2 separate regions of the Homo sapiens genome follow, and region 2 is linked to region 1. Evidence: fine-mapped expression QTL. A gene starts in region 1. The other region holds a variant in brackets. All regions are shown on one strand. Distances are from middle to middle.

Region 1 (16,623 bases):
GCACCTACCATGTGCCAGACACAGTATTAGACTCTCAAAAACGCGGCATAAATGGAAACTAGGCCCTGAAGCCAGAGCCTCAGGACTGGCTCCCGGGAATGTTTGAAGATCATCGCGTATCTTGGAATTGCCAGGCTTCCTGCTCCACAGATTCCAGCGCTGGGCAAATGGACACAAGGAAACATAACTTCTGCATAACTTTTACTACTTCTTTCCTTTTTTCTTTTTTCAAGTAGCAAAGGACCATTAATTAGAAGAATAATTACTGCTACCCTATATTATCCCAACCTGTTCAATTTCTATCTGCCGCAGACAATGCTAATAATGGCAATTATTGCTTCTATAAACATCCCGAGGCAGCACTCTTCCCCCCGCAGTGTGTGTGTGTGTGTTTAAAGAATATATATAAAAAGTTCCCCGGCTCATTTGCATAGCTTCATCTTTACCTTTTCCCATTCAGCCCTTGCAAAAGCATATCTATTCAAAGCCCTTGCAAAAAGCATATCTATTCAAAGGGCATTTAGTCCATTTCTTTCTTGGCCGGTAAACCTATTCATCAATTGTTCTGCCTTGTAGATCGCATTCTAATGCTAATCTAGCGTGTTAAATATCTTTTTGTTCCCCTTTCACCGTTTTGTCATTCAGTTTATCCAGTTTTGGTCACCCATTTTATTTATTTATGCGCCTGCTCCTATTCAGGGGCTCATGTATTTTTTATTATGTTGTTTCACTGTCACGCAGTGTCAACTTAGTCTATTCAATGGGGGCTACTTGAAGGCCGGAGGGACAAAGCGTGTACACATTGCACCGCTATTCATTCCGGCCAGCTGGATCGGCTGAAAAAAAAACCTTGTGAAAAGAAACGCCTCACAATGGACACAGAAGAAGTGCACAATGCTAACAGTTTTCCAAATACCACTGATTGGTTTCTTCACAATGAGGAGAAAGCCGCCGCTTTTTCTTAGCTCCACTTCAACAAACAACACTCTCACAAAACCTCCCAACCCTGCGTTTTGTTCTCGGACAAAACCTCCTCGACTGTCTAAACGCTCCCACTGAAGGACAAAAAAAAAAAAAAGGATAAAAAAAGCTCTTTTCACCATTTCCCTTTTTTTCCCCCCTGCAAGAGAGAAAAAAGAAAAGGGGGGGAGGAATTGTCAGTGCATTAATAATATCAGTCTTTTAAAAGAAGAGGGCTGACCTTTGAGATGCACTGGGCTGAGGGAGAAAGAAAGGAGGAGAGATTAATAAAGTTTGGACGGCTCCCTCGGCCTCCGCTGGGCCGCGGGCGCAAGAAAGACGCGGACCCTCGAGGCGGACGAGTTGCGGGAACTTCGCTTGCCTGGAGGACACGGCGGCCCAGGCGGCCGGGAGCGCCGGCGCCGAGCCGCGCTCTGATTGGCTGGCGCGACCGTCCCTATCTGCTCCGGGGAGAGTGGAATCTTCTCTCCATCTTCTGCGCCCCGAGCCTGGGGTGAGAGGGAGATCCGCGGTGCTTTCTCCTATCTTCTTGGGGGAGGGGGAGGAGGAAATTGTCAAGGGAAGTAACAATCGCGGCCAGCAACCCTGCTCTCCCAAAGCCACCCCCTCGCGCGACAGCGTCCCCAGCACCAGTTCTTACTGCTTACACAGCGCAATTCCACCTGTTTGCACAAAGCCCGAAGCAACATGCCTGGCCCCTTGGATACGAGGCTTGCTTCAAGTTTTGGGACAACGGTGAATACCAAAGAAATTGCATCATGGCTTTAAAAAAAACCTTGAAAAGAAACGAAAATAGAAGAATAAAAGGAAGGGAAAGAAGAAAGATGGAAGGAAGGAAGGAGAGAGAAGGAAAGAAAGAAAAATGGAGAAACAGGGAGAGAGACGGAGATAGATAAAGAGATGGAGATAGAGATCGCGAGCCAGCAGCAGCTCTCTGCCCAATCACAGCGCTGCATTTGTGGGCCACTTTCAGACGCTTACACCACCCACCCCCGGGCCTTTCTCTACGCCCTCTTGCCCCGGAGCCGCTCCCCCCGCTCCAACCCCTTACTTCTGCACAGTCTAACTTGGCAGGAGGCTCTCTGCAGGCGCAAAACCCGCCAACTTGTTAGCAAGACCATTGGAGTCAGAATGGGTGATAAACGAGTCTGTGGGGCCTGTGGAGGTCCTCAAACAGCCGCACAATCTGTTGGCGATATGACCTCGGTGCTCCCCCTCGGCATCCTCACCCCTCCTCTTACCCATCTTTCCAGTCCTCTTCTCATTCATCAACAACTCCGGAGCGTTTCTCCCAGAAAACGCTGATCTTTGGGAAAAGGGGAGGGGGCGGGAGGAGGCGGGGAGTCTTCAGGCCGAGGAGGCGGCCGAGCTGGAAGGCTCAGGGTGGTAACTAAGATTTAGGGCTGGGGTGATTTCCAGCGAGCCGCAGGAAGTTCCGTGTTGAGAAGGGATGGGCTGCTACAAAAGGGAAAGACGAAGCCTTGAAAGGATTTAATTAACCGTGTCAGGGATAATTACCCCTGGACAGTCCAAATTAGTTTTGCATAATCGCTCAGAACCATATGAATTAACTTATAATATTGCAAAGAGCTCAGGGAATAACAGGAGAGGGATCATTTTAATTAGTGAATCAGGGTCAAACCAGCAGAGCCTATTTCTCACATTTCCAAAACTTTTCATGGTTTTTAAAATATTATTCCGTTGGGGGAAAACAATGACTTTAAAGACTTGGGTCGTTTATAAAGACGTGCAGCTCCAGAGATGGTCTCAATGGGGAAACTGGTTTAAGACTTGTATATAGTATCTTGAGAATTTCCATTTTGGTTGCGGGGGGGCGAGATCTTCCTATTTTTTTTTTTCTGACAGTCTTCTATTTCTTGTCTAAAATTAAAATCCTTTATGATTTTTCAAACTTTAGTAGCAATTTGTCTAGCCCTAGAAATCCAACCCTCTCCATTTGAATGTTATACTTCTACTTTAATGCGATTAGCATAACAAAATTAAGTCCTAAAGAGGCCAAAATTTGTACTTTGTCGTTAGTAGTGATTATCCTTCCAAATAAAACCTTAAGGTGTCAACAAGGAATACCCCAAAGATAGGAGAACAAATTACACTGATTTAAGTGGTGGGGCTCTTCAACTAACAAGATAAAGTGGTCAAGCAACTTTCCCCTCTTAAAATGTTACTAGAAACTGGTGAAATGCTTTGAAAGGTCTGGATGTTTTCAATGGGCTCTGTTCTACTGGTTCATGAATGCCTTTTTTTTGTTGTTGTTAAAGCTAATACAACGACTTGGGCTTTTTAAAAATCTTCTTTCCTATTCACGATTAAAAATGTGATAAATCAGGTTTTTGGCTCTGAATAACAATGGCTTGATTTAGATTTCCTAGTAAATCTATTCAAAAGTGAAACAAAGGGTGCCTTTGGAGGATACCTTACACTTCACCTGGACCAGGCACGTAAGGGCAATTCAGATAAAAATCTTGTTAGGAACTCAACAAGAAATAGAAGATTTTTCTTTTCCCTGGTTCAGGCTTTATTTAAACTCTTTGTTCAAAAAAAATGAACAGAGTGATAGTCGGATTCTAATTTACAGATATACCTTAGACGTCTAATATTAAATTAGAAGGTCACACTAGAAAATCATTTACACATAAAGGTTAAAACCATATTTAAAATTTTAAAAACTTTATATTACATAAAGCCAAAATGAAACTAAATACATGTTAGCCAACTTCATTCACAAACATTAGTCAAAATATATACATTTAAAAAGAAACAAAGCTAATAATTGAAGGTTCCTTTTTTCTAAAATGTGTTTTATTGCAATTTGCAAATGAATTGCAGGTGATCTAAAAAATAAGCCAATTGAGGAGGGAAATCCAAAACACATTAAACCAGCTCAACTTGGGAGAGAAATGCTAGCTGAAAATGAGAGACATCTGTTGAAACAATTCTGTGCTTTTTTTCTTCAGTTTTGCTAAATAATAAATATATAATTACCAGACAAAAAAGTCTGATTTAATCTTCGATAAAATTGCGATTCTGAAATAGTTTCGCAATTTTTAAAAGTTAACTTTGATATTCGCTCAAAATGTTTTTGAGTCTAAAGTCGACTCAAACTTAGGGCAACGAAAATAACACATTTTCCAAGCCTCAATGTTTTCACTGACATATACACATTTACAATCTTAAGGTGAACTCAGCCATAAGGGAAAATAGGAGCAGTGCCTTTTTCCTTTTTTGTAAACTGTGTCAGAAATCCAAGCGAGTGGACTCAGGGAGACTTCTAGTAGTTTGTTGTTGTTGTTTGTTTAGGAAGAAAATCCAATTGACAACTTTCATCTCACAAATATTTCTTGTTTGCGTTTCTTGCCCTTGAGAAAGAGCTCTTGCTCTGATTTGCAAATGGCGTGATAAACAAAAGAAACCGTGATCATCTCACACAAAAGGCCAGATTCGAGCCGGTCACTGGTCAAGAATGGATCTGGTTGGGAGTTCTGCTTGAGAGAACAGAGATCTGCAAAGTTCAAATAGTACAAACAGGGAGGCGAGGCTGCTCAGAGCCATCCCACTCCCAGAAACGAATGACACAAGCAGCTTTTCCCGTGTGCCAGCCATTTCAGACCTCACATTTGAACAGCGTGCATGCAACACGGACCGGGAGGGGGTTGGGGGTTGGGGGGCTGAGGGGCGAGGAAGAAGAATGAGAAACAAAAACAAAACCGACCATGAAACTTCCAACAAAACTGGAAAGGCCAACATGTCAAAAAGTTACTCCTCCACCTCCGTGGGTCAAAACGCAACAGGTTCCGAAGTGCAAAGCAAACGCCAACTGCTGCCGCACACAACCGCCTGCTTTCGAGTTGGCTGCCGAAGTGCGGGTCTGAAATGATCCTGCGAATTCACAGGCCTGCTCGCCCGCGCCCTTGCGCGCTTGGCCACTCCTGCCCCGCCTGGCCTCTCTGCCTCTACCTGGCACCTATACATTCTATGTACATACAAACCGGGCCCCCGGTCGCGGGAGGGCGCACGGGGAGGCCGCAGCGCTCGTACCTATACATATGTACACGTGTGCACACCGGTCCTCGCGAGGCGGCCCCGCGGGGTCATAGCGCGGCAGCGTAGGCCGCGGGGTAGGGGTCCAGCTGGGGCTTGCCCATGCCCGGCAGCAGGATGTAGGCGAGCGGCGGCTGCAGCCCGGGGCTGGGCCACGCGCTGCAGTTGCACGGGATCATGTAGCCCGGGTTGCCCGGGCTGGGGTGCGAGTGCGTGTGCCCCCCGGCGGCGGCGGCCGCCGCTGCAGCCGCCGCCGCCGCGCCGTGGAAGGCGCCCGCGCCCGCGGTCGGGTAGCCCAGCGACGACGCGTACGGGAGGCCGGACGAGGACGACGAGATCTCTGCCATTTTGGAGCCCAGGTCGAGCAGCGAGTAGGGGCTGCCCGCGGCGGCGGCGGCGGCGGCAGCGGCGGCGGCAGCGGCCGACTGCGGGAAGAAGACGCGTGCGGCGGCAGCGGCGGCGGCCGCGGCCGCCTTCTCGGGATTGGCGAGCAGCGACTCAGGCACCAGGCCGCCGCCCGCCCCCGCGTGCAGCCCGGCGCCCGCCTTGAGCGCAGGGTGCTCGGCGTCCGCCACGCCGCCCAGGCCGTAGGGCACCGGGAAGGCGAACTTGTCCTTCTTGAGCAGCGTCTTGGGCTTGCGCCGCGGCCGGTACTTGTAGTCGGGGTGCTCCTTCATGTGCATGGCGCGTAGACGCTTGGCCTCGTCGATGAACGGCCGCTTCTCCGACTCTGTGAGCAGTTTCCACTCGGCGCCCAAGCGCTTGCTGATCTCCGAGTTGTGCATCTTGGGGTTCTCCTGGGCCATCTTGCGCCGCTGAGCCCGCGACCACACCATGAAGGCGTTCATGGGCCGCTTGACGTGGTCCACCGGCTTGGACATGCTCTCGCCCTGCCGCGGCTGCAGCCCGCCGCCTCCCGGGCCCTCGCCCTCGGCCCGGAGGAAATCAATGTTGGCTGCCCGCGGAGACCCGCTCGGCCGGCCGGGGCTCGTCGCGCCCCGGCGTCGCTCCCGCCCCGGAGGAGGGGGCTGGGGGACCAGCCCAGGGCCACGCCGCGCCCCGGGCCGCCTTAGTGTCTCCGGCCGAGCGCTCGAGCAGGTTGTCTCTGGGACACTCTAACTTCTCGGCGGTGCCCCCTCCCCGCGGCGGCAGTTTGCCCTTTACGTTCTTTGGGTCCTTCGTCTGCAGTGGCGTTTGCTGGTGAGCTCCCCGCAGGTAGCGGCGGCCGGGCAGAGCGCTCCTCCTCCTCGGTCGTTCTCTCTTAAATGCAAAGCGTCCCCAAAAGTTGCGTCGCGGAGACTCCTCGAAGTTGAGCCGAGGAGCCCGCCGCCGCGTGCTGCCAAGTGCCAAAGGGGGCTCTCAGCGGCTGGAGTGTTTGGGTTCTCCTCGGTGACTTTCTCATTTGACAGAAGCAGATGGGGGTGGGGAAGGCGGGGAGGTGGCCCTGGAGGAGGAAGAGGAGGGGGAGGCGGAGGAGTGTCCAGGCGTGCCACGAGAACGCAGAGCGCAGCAATGGATATAAATACAAATACAGCAGCACCAGCCTGTCTTCTTGGCTCCGGGCAGGGTGCGCCGATGGGAAACCCCCAATCGGCTGGGTGATTTTTTTTTTTTGGAGGGGGGAGCTGTCCCCCGCAGCACCTGCCTCTCGAGTCTTCCTCTCCCGCTGCTGGACTGACGGGTGGGGCGAGGAAGGAGGGTGGATGAGGCTTGAGCAAGCGTTGGTCGCCCGGCCTCAGAGGAAGTTCTCCCGGCTCGCCGAGGAGCCGCGTCCGGCCGTCCCCTGGGCCATGCCGGCTCTGTTCGCTCCGAGCCCCTTCAGGCGCGCCTGCCGACTTAGGGCTCCCGGAGCTCGCCGGCCGCGGAGGGCAGCGCAGCCTCCACGCGGCGCCGCAGGCCTGGCACCGGCCGCGTCCCCGCCTCGCTCTTCTCGGCAGCCGCCTGGCACTTGCAACTAACTTCGCCCAAGTTTCCTGCGCCGCGGCGCCCCTCTCGGCGCGCTCCTGGGAGCGTGCGCCCGCGAGTCCGCCGCGCCCGGGGCCCCTCTGTCCTCGCTGCTGTGGCCAGAGCCGAGCCGGCGCAGGGGCGGAGGTGCTGCAGGAGAGTTAAGGAAAACGGGCCATCACCTCAGTTCGCAGGTCCGCGCTGTGGCACCTCCCGCTCTCCCCACTCCCGCGGCGCAGGGGGCCCCTTCCCAGCCCAGGCCGCCCTCTGCACCGGCTCAGGTGAGTGTGGCTACCTGCATGTGTGCGCGCCCGGAGCCGGCACTGGGTGTGCATGTCCAGCCGCGGCTGTGTGTGTATATCTGGGGGCCTGCGGAGGAGGTGGAGCCCAGGACTCGGGGAGGGAGGAGGGATCAGCGGAGCCGCCTCCCGCTCCCACACCCCCAGGACCTCGAATTAACAGATCCCCTCCGCCCCCCGCCCCCTCCCAATCCTCCTCCTCCCACTCCTTTTCACTTGAGAGCAGGTTTAGGCGAGTGGAGAGTCCGGAGCGCGCCGGGGAGTCTGCGCCCTGTTTGGCGTTGGCAAACCCTGGTGTCATCCCGGCTACCCAGGCCGGCCTGGCGTGCAGCTGCCCTGGTTGTGGCCCTGGAATCCTCGCCGGGAGGAAGAAGGCGGCGGGCACGAGTAGGAGAGCCTCTCCAGCTACGGAGGAAGAGGGTTAAACCTGGAGAAGGGGAGACTCACCCTTGAAAATGTTTGAGACTGTTCCTAGCAAGAAAGTGCTCATTTTCCTTGGAGGTCCAGGTGTTGCTTGCAACAGAAACAGAGGCTTCTCGCATTTTCTTGCACTGGCGATGCACCTAGTCAGAGGTAGTGGAGTGAAAAATAACTCTGGAGGGAATAAGGACATTCTTGGCAACCTTTCCAAAAAAGAGCTAGCCCAGACTGAGAGTATGCATCCTTGACTGACTATTCAGCTCTTTAAAAATTCTGTGTTGTTTGTCTTTTGTTGTAATCTTGGTCGCCAGAACCATCTATATACTGATCTCTTTAAGGTACAGTTAACTTACAGTGTCTCACTTACATGCGCTGCTGAGGTGAAGGTGTTTAAAATCAATAAGTGTAAGTAGTTTCCCTGGAAGAGAGAAGTAAAACGTACCAATCACTCAGTGCTGGAATATTTTTATGCTAAGCATAATTTCCTTCTTTAGTAGTTAGAGCAGTTTTTTAAAAAAAATAGTTAACACGATGCAGAAGTCAAACAGCATGATTCTGTTTCCGTATTTTCCTCACTTTTTGGTATGCTGCGGCACATTTAGAACATGATCTGTCTGGAGGTTTTATTCACATGGTGGCCTGCCCTTCAGGGAGAACTTGCTTGCCTTCTTTCTTTGGCAGTTTGGATTTGACCTAGCCCTGTGGTATGTGCAAGTAGGAACATCTACAAACGGTTAACTCTTTAAGTCTTCCTACGATTTATGTTCAGTTCATTCACACACACACACACACACACACACACACACACACAAAAGCTTTGATTGTAATTATGAACGTGAATTAAAACTGTTTCAGGCCATCAGATTTATGTAAAAGTTAGGCTTGTTTTGTTCATTTTAATAAAAGAATAGTGACTTAAAAATTACAGTCGTGATAACAAAACTGTGAACAGCAGTGGCATCTATGTGGGTTTTTGTTTTTCTGAAGATGTCGTATTGACAAGCTTATTTTGTATCGGTTATGCCCTTGCATTGTTAAAATAATTGGACTGATTTCTCCAGAACCATATTCCTTTACAGGCTCTGTAAAGACACTCTTGTCATTCACAGACTCTGGCTGGAGCAATGGGAAAACACTAGCATGTGTAATTACATAGACTGGAATATTAAATATACTGTTTTGTGATGATAAACTACAAAATTATCGTCCCTGAGCTTTTCACCTACTGACTTATAGGTTTGAGACAAAAATACTATACACTGGAACATAAAGAACATATGTATATATAGGCCACAAAACATGAAATCTGTTATTCACTAAATATTGTGAATAAAGTTAAATTTAATCGTGAAAATTATTTTGACACATAAAAAGGGAGAAGGATTGTGAAAATGTGTTTTATATTAGTGAGTTAAGTGATTTTATACTATTCAAATTTAAGTGTAAAAATCTACTGCAATAAATTATTACATTAGAAATGTTTGTATATATGATTGAAATGTATGCTTACATGTGCAATGTCTTATAGGAATAATATATGTAAGGTTCCTTGGCTATAGTTTTTTCCAGTATACATTTACAATATTGTCTGTCTAGTGATATTAAATGAGCCAAATTTGAACACTCTCAAGTCCAAGAATGTTGAACTGTGGGAAACAAAGGTGTCATAAGAAGAAAATGACTATTTGTGTGCTTGTCTATTCACCAAATGAAACTTCCCACATTTCAAAATAGGAAAGATTTGGTTTTAGTTCTTGGCTTCTAGGGGATCAATATTCTTGGCCTAACCCTTCACAACCAAAGAAAGAGCCCTCATAATCGGCCATTCATTAAAGAAAGGCAATGTGGCATTGCTGTTATTAACCAGCCTTCACACCTCTTGCCTGAATCTGGTTGAGCTTTTAACAAAGTAAATTTTCAAGCCATTTTCATTCATATGTACCAAAATGTAAATTTGCTTTTAATTTCCTCATATCTTGTGTTTGAATTGATAGAGGTATATTTTTATTCTTGCTCAGTTTTGTCCTAAAGATTAAAAAAATCCCAGCATATAGGAAATGGAATAGTCTGTGTGAGTGAATAGTGAAGGAAAATAAATTGAAAGAGAATTGTAAGTTTGATGAGCTTTATTTTGTCAACTCTTGATTGTAAACACCTAAAGAACAGTATAGATTTGATCGGTAGAATTCGTGTGGGTCTGTATTTCCCTTGCGGCCACAGTGATATATGTGATCGCAAATGTATCTAGTCGGAAACTGAGTGACACTCCCTCAGAAAAAGTTGTGGGCCTGTGTAAATTGAGTTTCCTCTTTTCCCCCTTCAATTCTCCCCAGAAAATAGTCTCTTTTCAATTCTAAAACTTTCACTAGGAGGCAGCAATGAGATTGTTGGGGAATAAAAAATACCTTGGCAACACGACAGGCTGGCTTGCTTGCTTTCTCTTCCACAAGGGAGGGGAGAATTCTTGGGTCCCAATGTGAACAGAATCATTGTCCCCCATCATTTCATCCTCCTCTCTCTCATTGGATTTTCACCTAGGTGGCTCATTGTCACATTTTTCTAGAACCATAGGGATGATAAAGCAGCAAGCCAATGGGGTAATGAGAGGTGACTAGATGGAAGTGATGGGCAGTGAAGGTGATACCTTCAAAGTGCAGAGGCCAAATAATCATTCATGGACACTGAGAGCTGACAGCTGTTGTTAGAGAATGTTGGAGATCTGTTCTTAAGCAAGTGCAGTGGAAGAATTCAGAAGCTTTCATACCTGCATAGAGAGGTGATATAGCCTGTTTGTCCTGTTAAGAAGAAAATGAGAAGACTGTGACAACAGCCAACCCTGAGGCTTTTGCCACAGTTCTCTGGTCTCACTCCTATTAGCCCCCAAAAGGGGGAAAAATCCCAAACACATGATCTCCGTAAAGCCCAAGAGACAAAAAGAGCTGTTTGAGGTCAAGTCATGATGGAAAGCAACGGCTGTAAGAGTGGCCCTTCACCAGTGCCTGCTAATTTTTTTATCCTTTTGAGATTTCTGTCCTTTTATTCTCACTGTTACTGCCACACTTGGAAACTGGGAATATACAGATCAATCATGGAGAACACCTTTCCTCATGTCTCCTGAGCAGGGCTCAAGCAGGCTGACATTTTCAAAAGGAGCCTTACCTAGAGGATAGAGCAGGAAAAACAATGTCAAAAACAGTCCCCTCTTGCCCCCCGCAAAAAAAAAAATAAGAGAAAAAAGACAATACAAATAATTCAAAACAGACAACTTCACAAAGTACCTATGTCAAATCCCAAGAATCCTATAAAAGCATAATTTTCTTAGGATAAGAACCTTTTTTGTTTTGTAAGTGAGAGGGAGCTAATCTTGAATAAAACTAGAAATGAATGAGGAGGGTTGGATAGTGAGGGTGTCATTGGCCTGGGTAGTGAAAACTTCCAGCCTTCTGTAGCTATTACATGAGGAGACTGGCTTTTGGTAGGGTGGGGTTCCTTGTGAATGATGAATCACCAACCATGCCCCCGTTTATTTTGAGAAGAACAAACCTGAGAAAGGGGGTTCTCTTAAATATCCCAGCAGGGTGGTAGATAAGCCATGCTTCTGGCTTTACAGAAGTCACTCTGACTGTCCCCCTCTTCCAGCTTCTGGCTTGCCCAGCCCTGTGCCTTCCTCCCACTCATATTCAGGTTCCTATCTAAGGACGGGTCTGCTTTAGAGCTAAATTGCTGAGTGGCTCTGCTTCTTAAAAGAATAAAAAAATACATAGCTATCAGTTATTGAGTTTTAAGATACCACACCTTTTGCACACATTATTCTATTTAACTTTTAGGAAAACCCTGTGATGTAAGCATTACCATCTCCAATTTGCAGACTGGGGAACGAAGCCTTAGAGCAGATGAGTAAGTAACTTGCCTAAAGTCACACAACCATAAAAGGAAGAATTGGGATTTGAACTAAGCTGATGTTTTTAACCTCCAGCACTTAGAGTCCCAATGGAAGGCTCAGCCCCTTTCCAGTGCAGATTCTCAATTCTATCTACTTCCCCAAGCTTTGTGTGACTCATTCAGCGCCCCACTCCCTCTATGAGGGAGTAGCCCAGTGGCAATCTCCCCAGTAAGGCATTCCAACCCCACAACAACGACACCCCAATCAGAAGAAGCAGTTTCTCTAAGTCCCATCCCTGCTGTTCTGGGGCCAGGCCTCCCCTTGCTCATGTAGCCCTCAGCACAGATTTGGTGTCAGCTGCAATCCACCATCACTCACTCCCTAGGCCTCCCGCTGCAAACACTGAACAATTGCCTGCCCTGAATAAACCCAATCTCTACCCTTTCTCTGATAGCCAAAGGCTGCTCCAACAATGTTATCTAATTTCAGTCTTTATTTTCTCCCAACCCTAGATGTCCGGCCTTTCCCTCCCTTTCTACCTTTCTTTTGTGAACCCCAAGTACACAAAATTGGTTTAATCACAGTTCGTGACTCATGATTCACTCTCATAATTGGTCCATCAATGGCCTAGTTTTCTTTAGTTAGTTATATTTAATACTTTAACAAGTGCTTTTATGAGTCCACCACTCAAAATAAAATCTGCCAATAAACCTAACTAAATGATCTCTCCAGTAAACTCTGCACTCGCCTTCCCCAACCCAATGTAGCTATTTTCATTCCATTGATTTTTATATAGTTTTGCTTTCTTTTTTTTAACAATACATATAGCATACTTATTTATTTATTTATTTTTTATTAGTATACTTTAAGTTCTAGGGTACATGTGCACAACATGCAGGTTTGTTACATATGTATACATGTGCCATGTTGGTGTGCTGCACCCATTAACTCATCATTTACATTAGGTATATCTCCTAATGCTATCCCTCCCCACTCCCCCCACCCCACAACAGGCCCCAGTGTGTGATGTTCCCCTTCCTATGTCTAAGTGTTCTCATTGTTCAATTCCCACCTATGAGTGAGAACATGCGGTGTTTGGCTTTCTGTCCTTGCAATAGTTTGCTGAGAATGATGGTTTCCAGCTGCATCCATGTCCCTACAAAGGACATGAACCCATCCTTTTTTATGGCTGCATAGTATTCCATGGTGTATATGTGCCACATTTTCTTTATCCAGTCTATCATTGATGGACATTTGGGTTGGTTCCAAGTCTTTGCTATTGTGAATAGTTTATATAGTTTTTCATCTAGATGTATGCTTTAAAAATATGTTTTTATTTTATTGTGTTTTTAACATAGAAGTTTTCATAAGTTAAATTTTTTGTATGTAATCTTTATTGTCTAACTTTTGTATATAATCTTTATTGTATAACTTTGGATTCATCAATGTTACTGCATGTCACTGTAGTTTATTCATTTTAGCTGCTACTAATATTTGGTTATGTAAATATACCACAGTTTATTGCTTACTGTCATGTTGATGAGCATGTGGGTTGTCTTCAGTTTTTAACCATTATGAACTGACTGCTATATGCATTCTTGTTTGTGTCTACTGTTGGACATGTGTACAAGTGAAAAGCTGTAAAAATGGGAAACCCACTTGTGCTTTACCCTTTTTCCATGTAGATCCCTTTGAGTTTCTGTTCACTTTTGATTTTTTTTCTAGGCATTCAGGGGTTTTTATATTTTTGTCCCAAGTTTATTATTTATAGGAGGGTTGGTCTTATAGGAGCCATTTCTGTGTTACCAGCATCCATCTGAAATTGATTTTTATGTATAGTATGAGGTTTGACATTTTTTCCATATAGATAGTCAATTTTTTAGAACCATCAATTTTAAAAATTGCATTTTTATACCACACATGTGTGCTACCTTTGCCCTAAATAAAATTGATGTAAGTTGGTTTCTGAGCTATTTTGCTTTATGTTTAAAATTTTTTCTATTTTTGCACCATATTGCACTATCTTAATTCTGATAAGGAGCAAGTTCTCCCATCATTTTCATCTTATTCAAAAGTATCTTGGCTATTCTTGGCCTTTGCATTTCTATATAAATCTTAGAACAGATTGTCAGGTTCCAAATACTTTCTCTCTCTCTCTCTCTCCCTCTCTCTCTCTTTTGAAACAAGGTCTCACTCTGTGGCCTGGGATGGAGTGCTGGGGCATAATCATGACTCATTGAAGCCTTGACCTCCCAGGCTCAATATCCTCCCATCTCAGCCTCCCAAGTAGCTGGAACCACAGGTGTGTCCCATTATGTCCACTAATTTTTTATTTGTTGTAGAGATGGAGTCTCTTTATGTTGCCTAGGTTGGCCTCGAATTCCTGGGGTCAAGAGATCCTCCCATCTCAGCCTTCTAAAGTACTGGGATAACAGGCATGAACCACCATGCCTGCCCCCAAATATTCTTTAAAAACTGATTTTCTTTTCTTTTCTTTTTTTTTGAGACGGAGTCTCGCTCTGTTGCCCAGGCTGGAGTGCAATGGCGAGATCTTGGCTCACTACAACCTCTACCTCCCGGGTTCAAGCAGTGCCCTGCCTCAGCCTCCTGAGTACCTGGGATTACAGGCACCTGCCACCACATCCAGCTAATTTTTTTTTGTATTTTTAGTAGAGATGGGGTTTCATCATCTTGGCCAGGCTGGTCTTGAACTGACCTCGTGATCCACCCGCCTTGGCCTCTCAAAGAGCTGGGATTACAGGAGTGATTATTTTTTTTAAAAACCTTTTAATCAAGACTGCTATAAATCTCTAGGCTGACTTAGGGAGAATTGACATCTTCACATTGTTAACACTTCTAATTCACGAACTTAGTATCCTTCCATTAATTTCATTGTTCTGAGGGGCACAGTGGCTCATGCCTATAATCCCAGCACTTTGGAAGGCTGAGGTGGGTGGATCACGAGGTCAGGAGTTGGAGACCAGCCTGACCAACATGGTGAAACCTCATCTCTACTAAAAATACAAAAATGAGCTGGGCGTGGTGGAACACACCTGTAATCCCAGCTACTCAGGAGGCTGAGGCAGGAAAATCGCTTGAACTCGGGAGGTGAAGGTTGCAGTGAGCTGAGATCGCGCCATTGCACTCCAGCCTGGGCAACAGAGACTCCATCTCAAAAAAAAAATAAAAAATTCTATTGTGCTTTCATTTATCTCAGTAATATAGTTTTCTGGTAAAGTTCTTACACATTTAAAATTCCTAGGTTTTTAAAGTATTTTTGATACTATTACAAATTGCGTATTTTTAAGATGATATCTTTTTTTATATATTTTATAGTTTTGAGATGGAGTCTCACTCTGTCGCCCAGGCTGGAATGCAGTGGCTTGATCTGGGCTCACTGCAGCCTCTGCCTCCTGGTTTCCAGAGATTCTCCTGCCTCAGCCTCTGGAGTAGCTGGTACTACAGGTGCCCACTACCATGACCTGCTAATCTTTGTATTTTTAGTAGAGATGGGGTTTCACCACCTTAGCCAGGCTGGTCCCAAACTCCTGGCCTCAAGTGATCTGCCTGTCTCAGCCTCCCAAAGTGCTGGAATTAGAGGTGTGAGCCATGGCACCATGCCAAGATGATACCTTTTTTAAAAGATAGTGTCTTTTTAAGAATTTGATTTTCTGTTTGTTGCTGGTATGTAGAAATACAATTAATTTTTATATACTGACTTTGTAAGTTGCTATCTTGTGATACCATTTTTATTTTACTTTTTATTTTTTGTTGTTTTGAGACAGGGTCTCACTCTGTCACCCAGGCTGGACTGCAGTGGCCTGATCTCTGCTCACTGCAACTTCCACCTCCTGAGTTCAAGCAATTCTCATGCCTCACCCTCCTGAGCAGCTGGAACTATAGATGCGTGCCACCATGCTCTGCTAAGTTTTTGCATTTTTGGTAGAGACGGGGTTTCACCATGTTGCCCAGGCTGCTCTCAAACTCCTGGGCTCAGGCAATCCACCCACCCATCTTGGCCTCCCAAAGTGCTGGGATTGCAGGCATGAGCCACCGCACCCAGCCCAAAACCATTTTTAATTCAAATGATTTATTTGTAGTTTTTTTGAGGTTTTCTATGTCCAAAATCATATCATCTGTGAATATTGAGAGTTTTCTTTCTTCCTTTCCCATTCTTAAATATTTTATTTATTTTTCTTACCTTACTGCACTGTCTAGATTCTTCAGTTTGTTGCTGAACAGAATTCGTGATGGTAGGTGTCTTTGTCTTTTTCCTGATCAACGTACGGCATAGCTGGGGGTCACCGTACTCTTTTCAGAGCTTAACCTAGTCCAGCCCTGGTCCCCACTGCCACTCAATCACATACATCTATGCATCTTCCTGGAATTATGCTTGGTTATGCCTTTCTTAGTTTAGACAGTTGACCAAACAAGTCATCCAGTCTTTATCTCTAGAACAAGAACTCCACCTGGTTTAGTCCATGAACTCCGAACACTGAAGGAGTAACTCCTTCCTTAGTTCCTCCATCAGCTTAGCATAGATTTTTGCCAAATATAATTGCTCAGCACTTGCCTGGTTATGGTATTACGCTATTTGCTTCAGCTTGGTTTTATCCTGCTGTGCTATCTGCATCTCACCTTAGGAAACGTGGCCTCAGTACCTGCACCATTAGGCACAAACTCCAGAGTCTGTGTCACAGAGCCAGTTTTCCGTAGTTTCTTCCACTACTTCTGGAGCGTGTGACTGCTTGGTTCAGCCTCAGTGCCTAGTGTCTTGAAAACAAGCCAAGACCCCCAATCATTGCACGTGGTCCAAACATTTTAAATGAGGACATTTGTTTTACCCAACAGCATAGTGTTCCCTTCCTCTAGAGGCAGGGTAAAATAACCCATGAGCAAGCAAATGCCATAATTCCTTCTAATTTTTGTAACTGGAATGTAATAAGAGGACACAAGACGGGAATCCTGAAGTATTCAAGAACAGTGATTAGTCTGATAGCCATCTGCACCTAATCATCCCAGCTGCCTGAAAAGTTA
Region 2 (16,623 bases), 52 kb after region 1:
CTTCAGGCTCTGAATTCTTTCCTGGCTAAGAATAGTCATCCCCCAGTGCAACAGCTTCTTTGCAGCTGTATAATAAATGGTCTCTGGTTTGTTGTAAATCATGGCATTAGTGCACATTAGTTTGAAGTTATCCTTTAGTTCTATCGACTGGTAGTCATTGTTCTTGACCTTTTCTTTCATAGTGCTAAAATCCCTTGGGTGTTTAATGATCATGGAGTAGCCAGGAGCAATAAAATCAGTCACAGGAAATGAAAAGAAAGCACTTGGGTCTTTTCTCTGCAATTGTCTCATCAGTTGATTCAAAGCTTCTTGAAGGGGTGTCTGTTCTACTTCTTCTTGTTTGGCTAAAGAGCTTGTGAGAGGATCTCACACGGGCATGACACTGGAGGTCTTTTTCTGCCTCATTCTCCACAAGGTCTCGATCTCGCTTCTTTTTATCCTCCCTAACTCTCCTCCGTTTTCTCTCTTTTTCTTCCCCTGGATCCTGCTTCTCTCCTTTCTTTCTCTTTTTCTGCTTTCTGTCCTTGTATTTGTCATGATCTTATTCGCCTTCGAAGAGGCTGGAGTCGTGCCCTGAGCTGCCCGTGGAGAATTCGGTGACTTCGTTCCCTCCTACTTTGAGGACCAGCCTCAAGGGCTTCTCTACATACCCCTCATAGAAGTGTTTGTCTGACTTGCGCTCCTTGTGCTTCTTGCCCCTGTCCAGCTGGCCCCGGTGCCCGCCCCCAGAGCCAGGAGCAGGCACGCAGCGCAGCTTCCGGTCCAGGCCAGGCCCGCGCAGGGCGGGAGCGGCCCCTTAGAGGCCCTGCGCGCCGGAGGCAAGGGGGCGGCGCGAGGTCCCTCTCAACCCATGTGAATTTAAGAAGAGTTTTTTCTAATTCTGTGAAAAACGATGTTGGTAATTTGATAGGAATAGCACTGAATCTGTAAATTGCTTTGGGCAGTATGGCCATTTTAGCAACATTGATTCTTCTTACTCATGAGCATGGAATGTTTTTCCATTTGTTTTTGTTGTCTCTGATTTCTTTCAGCAGTGTTTTGTAACTCTTGTTGGAGAGATTGTTCACCTCTGTGATTGGCTGTATTCCTAGGTATTTTATTCTTTTTGTGGCTGTTGTGAATAGAATTGTATTCTTTTATTATTATTATACACTATCCTTCTGCAGCATAGAATTGCATTTTTGATTTGGCCCTCAGCTTGGATGTTTTTGATGTATAGAAATACTACTGATTATTGTGCGTTGATTTTGTATCCTGAAATTTTACTGAAGTTGTTTATCAATTCTAGGAGGCTTTGGGCAGAAGCTGTGGGGATTTCTAGGTATAGAATCATATTGTCTATGAAGAGAGATCATTCAACTCACTCTTTTCCTATTTGGATTCCTTTTATTTCTTCCTCTTGCCTGATTGCTTTGGCTACGACTTCCAGTATTATATTGAATAGGAGTCATGAGAGTGGGGATCCTTCTCTTGTTTCAGTTCTCAGGGAGAATGCTTCCAGCTTTTGCCTGTTCAGTATGATATTGGCTGTGGGTTTGTCATAGATGGAGACCTGAATTATCAGGTCCTAGTGGATACCTGAATTATCCTAGTTAATATAATGCTTAATTTGAAATCTGATTCTTTTTTCTTCCCCAATTCTTATTAATGATTTAATATCTTCTCTACCTTATCTTACATATTTTGAACTACATTTGAATAACTACATTGCATTCATTTTTTTGTACTAATGTTTACATTGTTTCTCTTTGAGTTCTACAGACTTATCTCTAGCTTTTATACATAATTTTTACATAATATTAATATTAAGATGTGATTTACAGTGTACTCTCTTCTTAAAATTATTCATTTTACCATATTTTGTGGTTTCAAAGAGCTTTCAAATTTATTTTTGCCTGCTCTTTCCCTTCCTCCTTCTCTTCCTCTTTCTTCCTTTACAATCCAGAAGTCTTCTTCTTCTTCTTTTTTTTCACCTGTTATACCATGAATTCAGTTAATAGACTCCAGCAGCTCAGGCTCCTTTTCATTGGTTCTTACAAAGTGTGCTTCTCTGGGTGGAACAGGCTGCAGCTTCAGGTTTCTCTTTAGCTTCCCTCTTTATGCTGGTTATTTTCCTTCACACACTTTCAGGAAATCATCTTGGCTCTTAGAGTGCTTAATATGCCCAATATGCATATTAATTCTCTTGGCAAGAATCTTGCCCTTAACTTGTTTGTTTACAATGATGCCAACAGCATGCTAGGTAACTTTGTAGACTCTTTTAGTTTTGCCATGGTGACATTTGTGAGGCATTTCTTTTTGGACAGTACCCATTCCCTTGGTGTCTACATTATCGCCTTTCTTGTAGATATGCACTTATGTTGCCAAAGGTACAACTCCGTTTTCTCAAAGGCCTAGGGGACCTCAGCAGTTGCCTCTCTTCTTTCCTCTGTGTTCGTCATTTTATCAAATTACTGGAAGCTGGGAGTTGAGGCCAAAAGGTACTTTCCTCTTCTTAAAAGTAACCTGAGTGTTGTATCTCTTCTCCTTGCCTGGAATTGTGCTATTTCTTGCATTCTTCTTCTTCTGGGACTCGAATTCTAACTGTTAGACTTGCTTCTTGTTTTCTCTGGCTTTTGCCTTTATTGATGTCTCCCTTCCTTCCCCTTTCTCCCCATCTCCTTTGCTTCTCTTTCTTTCCCTTCATTTTTTCTTCCTTTTTTGGGGAAACTTCAAGGTTCTCTCTTCTAAGGAAACATTTATTTACCTTCTATCTGTTGTTTTTGGATCATGCCAAACCATCATTTGAGTTTTGTTTTCTCTCATGTTCCCTCCTGAAATCCATCCTGTTAATCCTCCCTGGCATTCCACCCCTCACAGTTCCATCCCATTCTCTTCTCCCTGTTCCCTTCTCTTACACTCAGAAAAGTTCTGTGCACTTTTGGGGCATGTTACCTGTTTTGATTTTTTCTTCTGTGTTTTCATTCTGAGCTCTTAGAGCTGGCCCAGCAAACCTGCCTGGGCTTAGCAGTAAACCTGTGTCCTTTTCTATTACAAAGAGCAGACACATCTCCATAACCAAGACATTCCAACAGAGGAATGTGTGTGTGTCCGGGGGGATGTGTGTGTGTTTCTGTATCAACTTTAATCTTTTGCTGACTCGAAAAGTCAAACCAAGTTAAAGAAAATCATAAAACAGCCCAAAACAGACAGGTTTGATATTCCCTCTTTCTTCAGGTCTATATTATATATTTCCTTATTCCAATCAAATATTTACTGTTATTTTTACTGAAAATGTTACTGCAACAAAAATATCTTTTTATTACTATACTGTACACTTTAAAATGGCTAAGATGGTCAATTGAATATTTTTAATTTTTTTTTGTTTGTTTGTTTTTTGAGACAGGGTCTCACTCTGTCACCTAGACTGGAGTGCAATGGTGTGAACACAGCTCACTGCAGCCTTGACCTCCCAGGCTGAAGTGTTCCTCCTGCCTCAGCTTCCTGAGTAGCTGGGACTACAGGCATGCACCATCATGCCCAGCTATTTTTTTTTTTTTTAATTTCAGTAGAGATGAGGTCGCACTATGTTGTCCATGCTGGTCTCAAAACTCCTGAGTTCAAGTGATCCTCCTGCCTCAGCCTCCCAATGTGCTAGGATTACAGGCATGAGCCAGCACTCCTGACCTTCAATTGAGTTATATGTGCTTTTCACCACAAAAAAAATTTTAATTGAGACCACAGTGTTTTCCATCTCCATAGGTATGTTCTTAAGGAGAATGAATTGCATTCTGAATCATTAGGAATGTTTTCCAAAAGCACTTATCTTTTCCTCTTAATACTGCATCCAAAATAAATGTTTTTTCCCCTAATAATATGAATCACCCACTAAACTCTTTGCTTCCTAAGATTTGAATTGTAAAGGTTCTTGTATGAAGAAAAAGCTCAATAAGTGTTTGTTGGATGAATAGGGAAACCTTAATTTATCTCATGCCAGTTGTAATAATAATTAATATCTTCAGCACCACTACTATTACATCATATTTACCACAACAGCTAACATGTATTGGCACTTGCTATGTGCCAGGGAATAACCCTTCAGAGATATTATCTAATCATAGCAGCTGTATGTAACTTTGTTTTTCTTTAAAATAACTTAATTCGGATTTCAAGATCTCATTCTATCAAGGTTATAGCTGCTTTTATCTCAGACACTTCTGGGTTGTTTTTGAGTTTGTTTCTGGGTTGTTTTTCTAAGTTTTAGGGTAGAGACAGACACTTTTTTTTAACCAATATAACTGCCCCCACCCCAACTCCTTTATTTACAGACTCTTGATACCATATTGAGCAGCGAAGTGCCAGCTGACTATTCCTTTTCTTTGCCTTCTTTGCAGCTGGGGTAACCAATTCTGGCCAGTGAGACATAAGAAGAAGTCAGCTGGAAATTTCTAGCAAAGCTTTTGATTTCAGATGGCTTGATGCTAGCTCCTCCCTCCCTCTTCTTTCTTCCTGCTTTGATCTCAGATATGATCCCTGGAGCTGGGGCAGCAATCTTATGACCATGCAGGAAAAGCCAAAAATTACAAACACATTGTTGAACTATAGAACCAATTTGTAACCATCTGTTTTTTGGACATCTTATTATGTGAGAGAAATAAAGGTCTCTTTCTAAAGTCATTAGAATTGTCTTTTATGCTACTTGCAGCTGAATGTATTCTTAAGTAATACATGAGAGTTATAGAGTGCCATGGGTGTGATGGTTCTATTTTGTATTAGGGTCACTATTATCCCATCTGGTCCTTCATTACCATTCCACACAGGTCATCACTGAGGTGCCTTGTATGGAATGATTGTTGTAAGCCCTGCAACCTTCTATTCTAGATCTTTGCTATGATGGTGTTGATGGCAAGGGTCCCATCTGTTTCTGTGCCACTCAGGGATACGAGGATATTTTCAAGGCTGGCTATGGCTCTGTGGTGGACTATTACAATGATGGCTCTGATTTAACCACACCTTTAGGTATTCATGCCTTATATAGTCCTCCCCACACTGACTCTAGACTTGGTCTCATGACTTACTTTGGCTGATGGGTCATTGGCAAACAGTGCAAGCAGAGGCTCAGTAAGCTGCTTGTACATTGGGACTGGTCTGCTTGGAATGTTCCCAGCCACCATAGTATGAGAAACCCAAGCCCTACAGTGAAGCCAGTAGAAGAAAACTGAGACACTCCAGTTGACTCCCAACTGAGCAACCAGCCAACCACTATGAGCAACTGCCACCTATGCAAGTAAGCCATCTTGGGTAGTCCAACCAATTGAGCCTCCAAATGACTCCAGCCTCAGGTGAACCATATGGAGCAGGCATCTGAGCCTGGGTAATTCACAGAATCATAAGAGGTAATAAAATGCTTGATGACTTAAGCCACTAAGGTTTGGGGTATTTTGTTTCACAGTAATAGCTAACAGGAAAAGACCTCTTCTTCTTAGGTACAAAATGATTTAGAGAGTCACAGTGTTATAATGAATAGTACAGCTATACAATTATTAAAATAGATAAGTATTTGCTTTTGCATTTTTGCTGCAAGTCCTATATATATAGTGCATATGAAACACAAGAAACCTGATACATTTATAAGCCATTTCGAAACACTACATTTTCTATTCTTTTCCACTTAGCATTTATATAGTGCTCATTATCACAGAATATAGGGGCTTTACAATATTATTATTTAGCATTTATATAACACTTTTTGCCTTCAGTGTATACTACAAATTATTTTACTTTAAAATCATTTAAATTTTAAAAGTACTTTAAAATCATTTAAATTTTAAAATTATTTCATAACTCTTTTTGCAGAGGAGAAAATATATAATAGAGCCTGAAGATGTAGTTGTATTGCTTCAGTCTCATGATAAAACTTGAGTGGATGAGGAGTTGCTTCTTATGAACGAGCAAAGAAAGTGGTTACGTGAGAGGGAATCTACTCCTAATGAAGATCCTGTAAGTATTGTCAAAATGACAACAAAGGATTTAAATATTACATAAATGTTGTTGATAAAGCAGCTGCAGGGCTTGAGAACATTGACTCCAATATTTAAAGAAGTTCAACTGTGGGTAAAATGCTATCAAACAGCACTGCATGCTACAGAGAAATCTTTCATGAAAGGAAGACTCATTTGATGTGGCAAACCTCATTTTTTTTTCATTTTAAGAAATTGCCACAGTCATCCCAACCTTCAGCAACCACCCGCTGATGAGTCAGCGTCCATCAACATGGAGGCAAAACCCTCCACTAGCAAAAAGATTACCACTCACTGAAGACTCAGATGGTGATGACCATTAGCATTTTTTAGCAATAAATTATTATAAAACTAAAATATGTTCATTGTTGTTTCAGACATAATGCTATTGTACACTTAATAGATTATAGTATAGTGTAAATGTAACTTTTATATGCACTGGGATATCAAAATATTTGGGTGACTCACTTTACTGAGAGATTAACTTTATTGTGGTGGTCTGGAATGGAACCCACAATATCTTTGAGGTATGCCTGTAGTGAAATATCCCAGCACTGTGTCAGTCAACAATGACAACAGTCCTGGGCATTGATGAAGTTCAAGAATTGTGTATTCCATGAATATGCCTTCTGAGCTCCTCTCCTCTTAACAAACCCTCTAGAGTGGTTCCCATGGTGCTCCCTGTTAATGTGGCAAAACAGCATTTCAGCATGGCTGAGGGAGCTCTGACAAAGATGTCCTGAAAGCATTGTCCTGCATGTGCCCTGTTTGGGAAACCTGAGGGAAGCCTTAAGGCTACAGTTAATTAGGAATGAATTTTTTAATCAATGGTTAGGAATAATGGACTTTACTATTAACGTTTTTTGAAGAATGAATATTAAGATTATGATTATTATCAAGAGTTTTAAATGACATAATAAAATGCTTGTAAAATTATCTCAAGTGTTAACTGCAAAGTACAAAAGTGTATTGAAGTGTGATCTCAACTTTGTAAGTATAGACACAAATATTTATGGAGATCTGCATGGGAGATTGAAAGGAAATATGCCAGAATCTTTACAGTGATTATTTCTAGAAATGGGATTATGAAGGATTGCTTTTATATCCCTGTTCTTTTAAAATATTCCGTAAGTAGGTGTTACTCCTAGAATTATAAAAAGTTATATATTTTTCTTTAGAGACTTTATTTGTTGGATTTGGTTTGAAGAGTTATACATTTGTACAATTCAAATATCAAAATGCTTTAACAGGGTAAACATTGAGAGGTCTTACTGAGGATGGAGGCAGGACGTGACTCAGGAGGCAGGA[CGCAATCAACT/C]TCAGAGGCAGGGCCCAGACACCGGACCAAATTGAGGACTAACTAAAACAGGGAGGAGGTGGAAGCACCTTTCCATAAGACACACCTACCAGTGTGCCATGTCAGTTTACCATTGCCATGGCAACAACCGGAAGTTACCACCCCTTTCCATGGCAACAACCCAACAACCCAGACGTTACCATCCTTTTTCTAGAAATGTCTGCATAATCTGCCCCTTAGTTTGCACATAATTAAAAACGGGTATAAATATGACTGCAGCACTGCGTCTGAGCAGCTATTCTGGGCACACTTTCTATGGGGTAGGCCTACTCTGCAGGGAGCAGTACTTCTGCTGCTGCTGTACACTGTTGGTCCAATAAAAGTTGCTAATACCACTGGTTTGCCCTTGAATTCTTTCCTGGGGGAAACCACGGACCTTCCCAGGCTAAGCCCCAATTTGGGGGCTGCGTCATCACCTCTACTCTGGTTTTCATCTCCTCCACTTCTCTATGAACAACTACTCATTTAGTTTCCTCTGCATTCTTCCTGAGTTCTTTTTGCAGATATAAGCAAATTTGAAAGCATGTTGTTATCCTCTCCCCTTTCTTACACAAAAACAACATTACATACACTGCTTTGATCCATGGACTGTAGAATGGATGTACTATTAGCAGATGTACTAGTCAGTTCTCACATTGCTTTAAGAAATACTTGAGACTAGGTATTTTATACATAAAAGAGGTTTAATTGGCTTGGGGTTCTGCAGGCTGTACAGGAAATACGATGCTGGCATCTGCATGACTTGGAAAGGCCTCAGGAAACTTACAATAATGGCAGAAGGTGAAGGGGGAGAGAGGTGTCTTACATGGCAGGAGCAGCAAGAGCAAAGGGAGAGGTGTCACACACTTTTAGACAACGAGATCTCATGAGAACCCACTCACTGTCACCAGAACAGCACGAAGGGGATAGTGCTAAACCATTCATGAGAAACATCTCCATGATCCAGTCACCTTGCATCAGGCTCCACTTCAAACACTGGGAATTACAATTCCACATGAGATATGGGTGGGGACACAGACCCAAACCACCTCAACAGGCATGAAAACAACATTAATTTCTTTGTACATCTCCATCAGAGCTCATAAGTGACCAGGTATATTGTCAATGAGCAGTAATGTTTGGAAAAAAGCAATGTTTTTCTGAGCAGTAGTTCTCAATAGTGGGCTTAAAATATTCAGTAAACCATGTTTTAAACAAATGTGCTGTCATCTGGACTTTATTTTCCCCTTTTCAGAGCACAAGTAGAGTAGATTTAGTGTCATTCCTAAGGACCCTAGGATTTTCAGAATGGTTAATGAGCATTGGCTTTAACTTAAAGTCTCCAGTCACATTAGCCCCTAACAAGAGAGTCAGCCTCTTCTTTTAAGTTTTAAAGCCAAGCATTGTCTTCTCTCTAGCTATGAAAGTCCTAGATGGCATCTTATTCCAATCCAAGGCTGTTTTGTCTCCACTGAAAATTTGTTAGCAAAGCTACCTTTATCAATGATCTTAGCTAGATCTTCTGGATAGCTTGTTGCAGCTTCCCCATCAGCACTCGCTGCTTCACTTTGCACTTTTATGTTATGGAGAAAACTTTATTCCTTAAACCTCGCAAACCAACTCTGCCAGCTGTCAGTTTTTCTTCTGCAGCTTCCTTACCCTTCTCAGCCTTCATTCATTGAAGCTTAATTATTTCTAGCTTTTGACTTAAAGTGGGAGACTTGTACCTCTTTCTTTCACCTGAATACTTAGAGGTCATTGTAGGGGCTATTAATTGGCCTAATTTTAATATCACTGTGTCTCAGGGAATAGGGAGACCCAAGGAGGGGGAGAGATGGGGAAACAATGGTCAGTAGAGCAGTCAGAACAAAAACAACATTTATCAATTAAGTTCATTGTCTTATATAGGTATAGCTCATGGCACCCCAAAACAATCACAATAGTAACATCAAAGATCACTGCTCTCAGATCAACAAAACAGATATAGTAATAATTAAAATGTTTGAAATATTTCAAACTTTGAAATTTGAATATTGTGAGAATTACCAAAATGTGACACAGAGACACAAAGTGAGCGATATACTCGCTCAGCGCAGGATCGACACGAACCTTCAATTTGTAAAAATGCTGTAGTATCAAATATTTGTGTTGCTGGTAAAACTTGGAATGGAGAGGAAAGACAAGAGGATGTCAAGAGGTGGTCTTTGTTTAATGAGTTATTCATAAGCACACTTATTATGTAGCTCTTCCAGTACTACAGTGGGGGGTGTGTGTGTGTGTGTGTGTGTGTGTGTGTGTGTGTGTTTTGCATGTTGGTCCTTTTTTTTTACAAATGAAATATATAAACATATTGAAATGAAGTTTAGCAAGAAGTCACACAGTCTTGTAGTTAGGTTATAGAAGATTTAAAGTTGAAAGACTTGCATCTGAATTCTGGTTCTGACTCTTAAAAACTGTCTTTTTTTCAAAACTCTCTGTGGGGGTGAGGGGAGGCCCTGTAGCCCACCCAACTCCAAACTAAAGAGTCCGAACTAGATTTGGTAGATGTGTCTTTATTTATATTTGTATATATTTTGTTAACAGGGCTATAGCATGATTGAAATAATATTCAGCAGAGGCTAATTTGGCAATGATCTGGCAGATGGAATGGAGAAAAGAGAGACAGAGACAGCAGACTTGGGAGTAGTCCAAGGGAATAAAGGAGGGAATGGAAAAAGGAGACTGTGAAGGAAGAACTGATGGGGTTTGAAAATTGCTTTAATGCTAGGGGCAAGAAAAATGGAAACAAATTAGCAAAAAGACCTATATTTAAAAGAGCAGGTGGTGAGGGATTAATTTGGAAGTGGGAAAGGGCAAATAATGAGTTTAGTTTCAAACAAGCTGAGCTTCAAATGCAATATATACACAAAGAAAGAAAGGGGAGTAGCAAGATGAGATGGGCAAGAAAAGTTAAATATGTGGGTAAAAGAATTCAGATGCTAAACCAGAACTGGGGGCAGCATGAGAGACACATGGTAAGGATGTTCCCAAGATGGTCTGGCAAAGGTTCTCTTTGGATCCATAAGGCAACAGAAAACACAGATTATTTAATGAAATTGAAACAATAAGCAGAATATTGAGGAGTGACACCAAATTTGACTGAAAGCTCCATTCTAAAGAGATGAATAATTCTTAACGTGAGACGGGGGGTTTATGATATATCAACTTAAGAAGTACTAGAATCTAAAGCCATTGTCTTCAAGTGGGGACTCCAGGGAACACCCAGCAGTTGATGAAATCAGAAAATTTTTATGTCATCCCAAAGGAAACTGAGATACAAAAGATTGAGATACACTGCCCCTGCTGACTGTGAACAACCTTTAAAATCTGCCCTTGGCTTTGGGAATGCTTTGAATGAATTTGCTGTGAGTTGCTTAAGAAGAGGCAGAGGGCGGAGTTTGCAACTAGAATTGTTAGGAAGAAATGAATTGGATTACAGAGATAGAGAAGATGCATTCTCATTCTAACGCCCAAATATATTAGGTCTTTAGGTAACTGAATAGACAGGAAAAAAAACAAATAGCAAAAGCATAGACTACAGTTTCCCCTTGAGGTGGTAGCCTACATGAAGCAGTTGAGAGAAGCATGAAAAGTAGTTTCTTACAAGAACTTTAATCAGTCTTTGATTATCGACATTGGTCTATGTACCTTGCAGATTAACCTTGGAAGTTACCTTGTTTTCTTCTAGTTGGCTACCTCAAATTGACAATTCCAAAGAGCATACACCCATTTTCATTTAAGAATATATAAAAACGCATTAAAAATTTTTCCATGAAAATAATTCATAATTGTTTGCTTTCCAAAATCCAGTGTGAAGAGATTTTTAAATCATCTGATAATTTAGGAAGATCTATATTAATACAGTGTTTCAATAATATCTTGAAAATCAGATTGAATGACTTCCTGGAGTGAAACATTCCCAGTCCTAAATCATTCTCTGGGAAGGGAGACATATTTGAACAGCTGTATATCAGTTTTTTTTTGTCTCATTATATACAAGTCTTTGTATTTTCCATGTCCCCAGGTCAAAGACCACCAGAGACACAAAGTTGGTTTATTGATGGAATTGGGTCAGTTGGCTCATTGTGATGAGGGAGACCTCACATCACGAGGCACCATGGGGCATCTCAGTAAGAGGATGTTGAAAAGATCTTATTATAGGCCTGGGACATGTTTAGGAGATTTTAGGGAGTGTTCAAGGCTGCTGTCAGGAAGGAGGGACTATTCCACGACTGACATTTTTACATTGCAGGTGAGAAGAACAATGCAAGGCTAACATTGTAATTGTCAAAGCAGCAGCAGTCACTAGGCCCGAATATGGGATGTTTGGATGGTTTTGTGGCTTGGACAATATTCTTGTTTTGTCTTGATAGATCAGACAAAACAATGGCCTTGAATGACATTGGTATCCTGTGCTGTGAAACAGCTTATGTTAAATGGATGAACACCATGGCCTAGCTGTGGGTGGCGAGCCAGCTCGTAGCAACACTGGGGCCTCGCTGATAGTACCAGCCCTGCTCTCCACTAACTGAGGCTGCTTTTCTCTTAGTATGAGCTCTCCCCAAATGCTGCTACTTTCCAGTTTCTCAGCAATTAGCACCATGTGTGTTTATTCATCCAACAAGTTTCTATTAAGGACCTCCTGTGTGCTAAAGCTATAATAGTAGGCAAAACAGGTATAGATCTCTTAAAATTAGAGACAGTGAGTAGAAGAAAGAGGGAAATTCATTAATTTTTAAAAATCCAGATATTTCATTACAAGCTGAGATAGTTATTTTGAAGGAAATATGGAAAGAGTTCTCAGAAGCTGTAACTATTCTAAAGAGTCAAAAAATGCTATTTGAGCAGAAATCCAAAGGATAGGTGAGAGTTGGTCAGGTGAAGAAGGTGGGGAGGGAGGGTGGGAAAGGCATTCTGGGTAGACTGAATGGTCTACCATTCAGAATGCAAAGACCCTGAGGCAGAGAGGCTTTGGAGAAACCCAAAGAAGGCTAGTATGGCTGGCTCCCTACTCATCTCTAAGCTATTTCCAAGTCTTCTCTTCGACCAAACAGTATTTATTATAATATTCAGCATTTTAAACAATGAATTTAAAAACCCAATGGGTTGTTTGAAAGCCAATTAGCTTTAGCTGAAGAAAAGCCACCCTGATGGCATATAAGAGTTAATACAGTTTCCAAAAGCAATAGTCTTAGCCTCTGAGAACTCATCAAAACCTTTAATGTTCCAATTTGAACCTAGAACCTTAGTGTTTTCACACTGAATGCTTGGACCATTCCTGCTCTTCTCCCCTAATTTTAAAATTACTTTCTTGTATTCTATGTCTTTCCTTAATTCCCTAGCCCCCCTGAGGGTGGAGTTCTATCCTATTCCTCTTCACATGCCCCCCAGCACCTTGGCATTTAGTTGGTTTTGTTGGTTTAACTAACATTGATTGAGTAATGTACCTATTTACACTCCACACTAGGAAACAAACTCTAAAAGGATGGATCTGTCCTCAGAAAGTTTAGAGTTGTGCAAGAATCTAACCCACCATCTAATAAAAGTGAAATCCAACTTTTTAGCCACCTTATCAAATTATTCGACATAAATTTCTGTATGGCTCCTCCCATGATAAAATAATCTTTATTTTACACTTCAAGGAAACTACTTTTAATACTATTTTCTATTTTTTTCAAAATGAAGTTTGACAATTACAAGATGTTGTTACTGTTGTTAAAACCAAGTGGCTTAATTGTGATCCCATTTGCAATTGATGTTTTCACCTTAGGGTATTTGAAAATGAGGTGTGTTTCCTTTTATGTTTTCAATGGCAGCCCCTTGTAATGGTTGTATGAGCACAAGACTGAGAATTAGGAGCCCTTCATTCTGTCCCTGACTCACCAAGTTACCCAACTTAACCTCATCTCATCTGTGAAATGGGGATAATAATACTTACCTCTCTCACTGGGGTATCATGAGTATTAATTAGTGTTTGTCAAGTGCTTTGAGATCTTCAGATGAAAGGCCCCGTGGAAGCTCAGTATAAAGTACTATTCTATAAATCTCCCCCACCCCCCACTTTCACCTGAACGGTGATTACCAATTATAGCCAGCTCTAAAAGGCGCTAATGCCGCATTCAGACACGACAAGGCAAGTTTTATTGGTCCATTAGGACATGTCTACTTGAAGGAATTAGTTTTGTGAAAATGGTTATTATGCCAAGGGCTTTTATTTTAGGCAGTCGTTGCTCTTAGTAGTTAATAGTTAAATATTAAGCCATTTGGAAAGACTGGTTTCACGTTTTGATTGGAAGGACAAGCCTTCATGCCATGCCATTTACATCTAAAGAAGCTTAGGCATGTGGTGTGGGAGAACCTACTTCCCATAAAATGAAATTATATTTATATGGAAGCCAACTTTGGTTTCTGAGAAACCAGCTGGATGGTGAAGACAATACTATCCACTTAATTAGAAAAGGAAGAAGTGACTCCCACATATAATTATCTGGATTCTAATTTCAAAGAATTCGTAACTCACGAAAGATTAATTCTGTCATTAGAACCACATTTCATATGTGGCAGCAAGCTAAATCAGTTCATGGTACCTTTTTTTAAAAAAAAACTCTTAGCAAGCTAATGTTCAACTGCAGAAAGGGGGCATGAACTCTTAGCTGATTGTTGGATTGAAATAATGTATGTTCTTTGAATAATCAAAACACTATTAATTTATCCTGTTCCAGGTTTGTTTGTATGTTTTTTCTGATCTACTATCAGAGATTTTCCTGGTTCAAAAGTAATTGATTATTTCCTCAGAAAGCAGGTTATTAGCTAGATGAGACCATTTCAGAAGCTAATTGAGTTGTTACAATGAAGATCTTATTGAGAAGTCAGGTGACATATTCATATTTTCATGACTACAAATTTCTTTTTAAAAATAAAAAGTAGAAATTCTTTAAAAAGTCAGTTTCGTCAATCATTGTAGAATTGTGTTTTTAAAAAATTTGAAAGGCAAGACAGAAGATAGAGTGACAAAATTTTACCATTATTTTTTCATATAGAAAGTAATAAACTAGTTTCTGATCATATAGATCACAAGGTGACTTATCTTCATGAAATTAATTCATGTCATGTTCATAAACACTGTATGACCTCATTTAGATTCATTCCCACTTTGTGATAATTTAGGTGTAAAGAGCAGTAAAGCCACCAGTGTTTTACCCATGAAGACAGTGCTCCTTGAGTAAATTCACTGTGTAAACAAGGGAAACGGACTTTCTTTACTTAAGAGTGAGGTCTAACATTGTCCAGGGCCTGAGAAACCAGTTAGTGGCATTGTGGGCATACAAAAATCATGTCAATTACAGATGATTCTTATCTATCTATTAACATACCTAGCAGTCCGCAGCTAAGACTTATAACCCCGTTATCCTGATCATAATTTTGCTGTTTGTTTACTAACACAAACACATATCTTTTTTTAAAAATCACAGATTTAAGTGATCTAATGAGCTTTCTTCTATGTTTATTTTATTATTCTAAAAATATTTTCATCAACACTGAAAATCATTTATTCATTCATTCAACAAACACTACCCCAACTGAGAATGCTATTGTCCCTGACTGGGAGGTGGGAGAGTAGAAAGACATTTTTTAGAAATGTTGGCCAGGCATGGTGGATCACACCTGTAATCCCAGCCCTTTTGAAGGGCAAGGAGAGTGGATTGCTTGAGCCCAAGAGTTCAAGCAGCCTGGGCAACATAGTGAAACCTCATCTCTACTAAAAATAAAAATTAAAAAATTAGCCAGGTGTGGTGGTGCACGCCTGTGGTCCCAACTCCTAGGGAGGCTGAAGCGGGAGGATTGTTTGAGTCCAGGGGATCAAGGCTGCAGTGAGCTATGATCATGCCACTGCAGCCTGGGTGACAAAGCAAGACCCTGTCTCCAAATAATAAATATTTTAAAATTGTTGTGTAGTGTGACATAGAAAGGAGAATCTTATTTATTCTGGCAGATTATGGGGAGGGCAGATGGTGGAAAGGATGATGCCAGGCTGCATCTTCTGAGAAAACAGTGAGGAGTTGTGAGAGGTGGGGAGGGGGCAGGCAGGAATGGAGGGGTAGCTGGCATGCACCGGGGTGGGCAGACTGAGAAGCAGGGCAGGCTCTGGTCAGCAGTGGCCTTACTATTCATGCTAAACAAGTTTGATTTTATCCCAAACATGATTTGACATTGTTGGAGGGTGTTAGTAGTGGGATGTGACCAGATTTAGGTTTAAAAGGTCTCTTGGGGGCTGGGCGCGGTGGCTCATGCCTGTAATCCCAGCACTTTGGGAGGCCGAGGCAGGTGGATCACAAGGTCAGGAGATAGAGACCATCCTAGCCAACATGGTGAAACCACATCTCTAATAAAAATACAAAAATTAGCTGGGCGTGGTGGCCCATGCCTGTAATCCCAGCTACTTGGGAGGCTGAAGCAGGAGAATGGCTTGAACCCTGGAGGCAGAGGTTGCTGTGAGCCGAGATCGTGCCACTGCATTCCAGCCTGGTGACAGAGAGAGACTCCATCTCAGAAAAAAAAAAAAAAAGATCTCTTGGGAAACCCTGCTACTTTCCAGACCTGGCTTATCATCAAAACCACTAAAATACACAAACAAAAGCAAAAACCCTTTTAAAATTTCTTTACAAAGAGTGAAAACACAAAAAACCAGAATCATATAAAAAAGGAAAGGCAAACGATTCCTTGTTTCCTTCACACTTTCACTAACATAAAAAGGTTGTCTATCACTTTTTTAAAAGTTTTCTCCCAGTCTTTATGCAGATCCAAGCAAATAAGACTATGAAATCTTTTCACCAGGCATGGTAATCCTGTTATCCCAGCACTTTGGGAACCAAGGTGAGAGGATTGCTTGAGGTCAGAATTTTGAGACCAGCCTGGGAAACATAGTGAGATCCCATCTCTACAAATAATAATAATAATCAAAATTTTAAAAAATTATCTGGGTGTTCTGGACTCCCCAAGGCTGGCGGCCTCCACTCAGGTTCTCCCGTCCTGGGATGAGGCTTCCCGTGGCCTGGACTTCTCCATTCACCTGTGGATTTGTGTGAAATGCGACCTCAGGAGGGTCAAGACCCCCACAGGGAGGCCACAGCGGGGCAGCTGGTGCCCCAGGTCCTCACCCAGACTGTGCTGGGTCCCCTCTGTTGTGGGTTTGGGGTTCGTGTCTCCTACCAGCCACTGCTTCCTCCTGAGCTCTCAGCCTCCCACCCC

Direction of the effects. Positions count from the first base shown, and alleles are read on the strand shown. Sizes are in standard deviations (SD) of each study's normalised expression.
For the expression in testis of the gene that starts at base 6,417 in region 1, CGCAATCAACT is the high allele of the variant in region 2 and C is the other (moderate effect, 0.57 SD a copy in GTEx).

Evidence for each region. PIP is the estimated chance that this variant, and not a neighbour inherited with it, causes the effect.
Region 2: its variant is fine-mapped to the expression of SOX21 in testis (GTEx, PIP above 0.99).

The regions. Positions count from the first base shown.
Region 1 is chr13:94,706,129-94,722,751 of GRCh38, forward strand. SOX21 (SRY-box transcription factor 21) reads right to left here and starts at 6,417. Exons shown (of 1, transcript NM_007084.4): 1 at 3,494-6,417. The coding sequence starts at 5,921. The coding sequence ends at 5,091. SOX21-AS1 (SOX21 antisense RNA 1) reads left to right here and starts at 6,588. Exons shown (of 2, transcript NR_046514.1): 1 at 6,588-7,265; 2 at 7,510-9,817. It overlaps LOC112268114 (a long non-coding RNA gene), which reads right to left and starts at 7,315. Exons shown (of 2, transcript NR_158368.1): 1 at 7,280-7,315; 2 at 6,592-7,134. It overlaps LINC00391 (long intergenic non-protein coding RNA 391), which reads right to left and starts at 2,373. Exons shown (of 3, transcript NR_170286.1): 1 at 2,223-2,373. RefSeq lists enhancers at 1-1,635, 300-981, 7,141-7,642.
Region 2 is chr13:94,758,573-94,775,195 of GRCh38, forward strand. It overlaps LOC101927284 (a long non-coding RNA gene), which reads left to right and starts at 2,369. Exons shown (of 5, transcript NR_110754.1): 1 at 2,369-2,480; 2 at 5,836-5,979. It also overlaps the pseudogene BRD7P5 and the pseudogene RPL21P112. The variant CGCAATCAACT/C (reference allele first, on the strand shown) is at 7,308.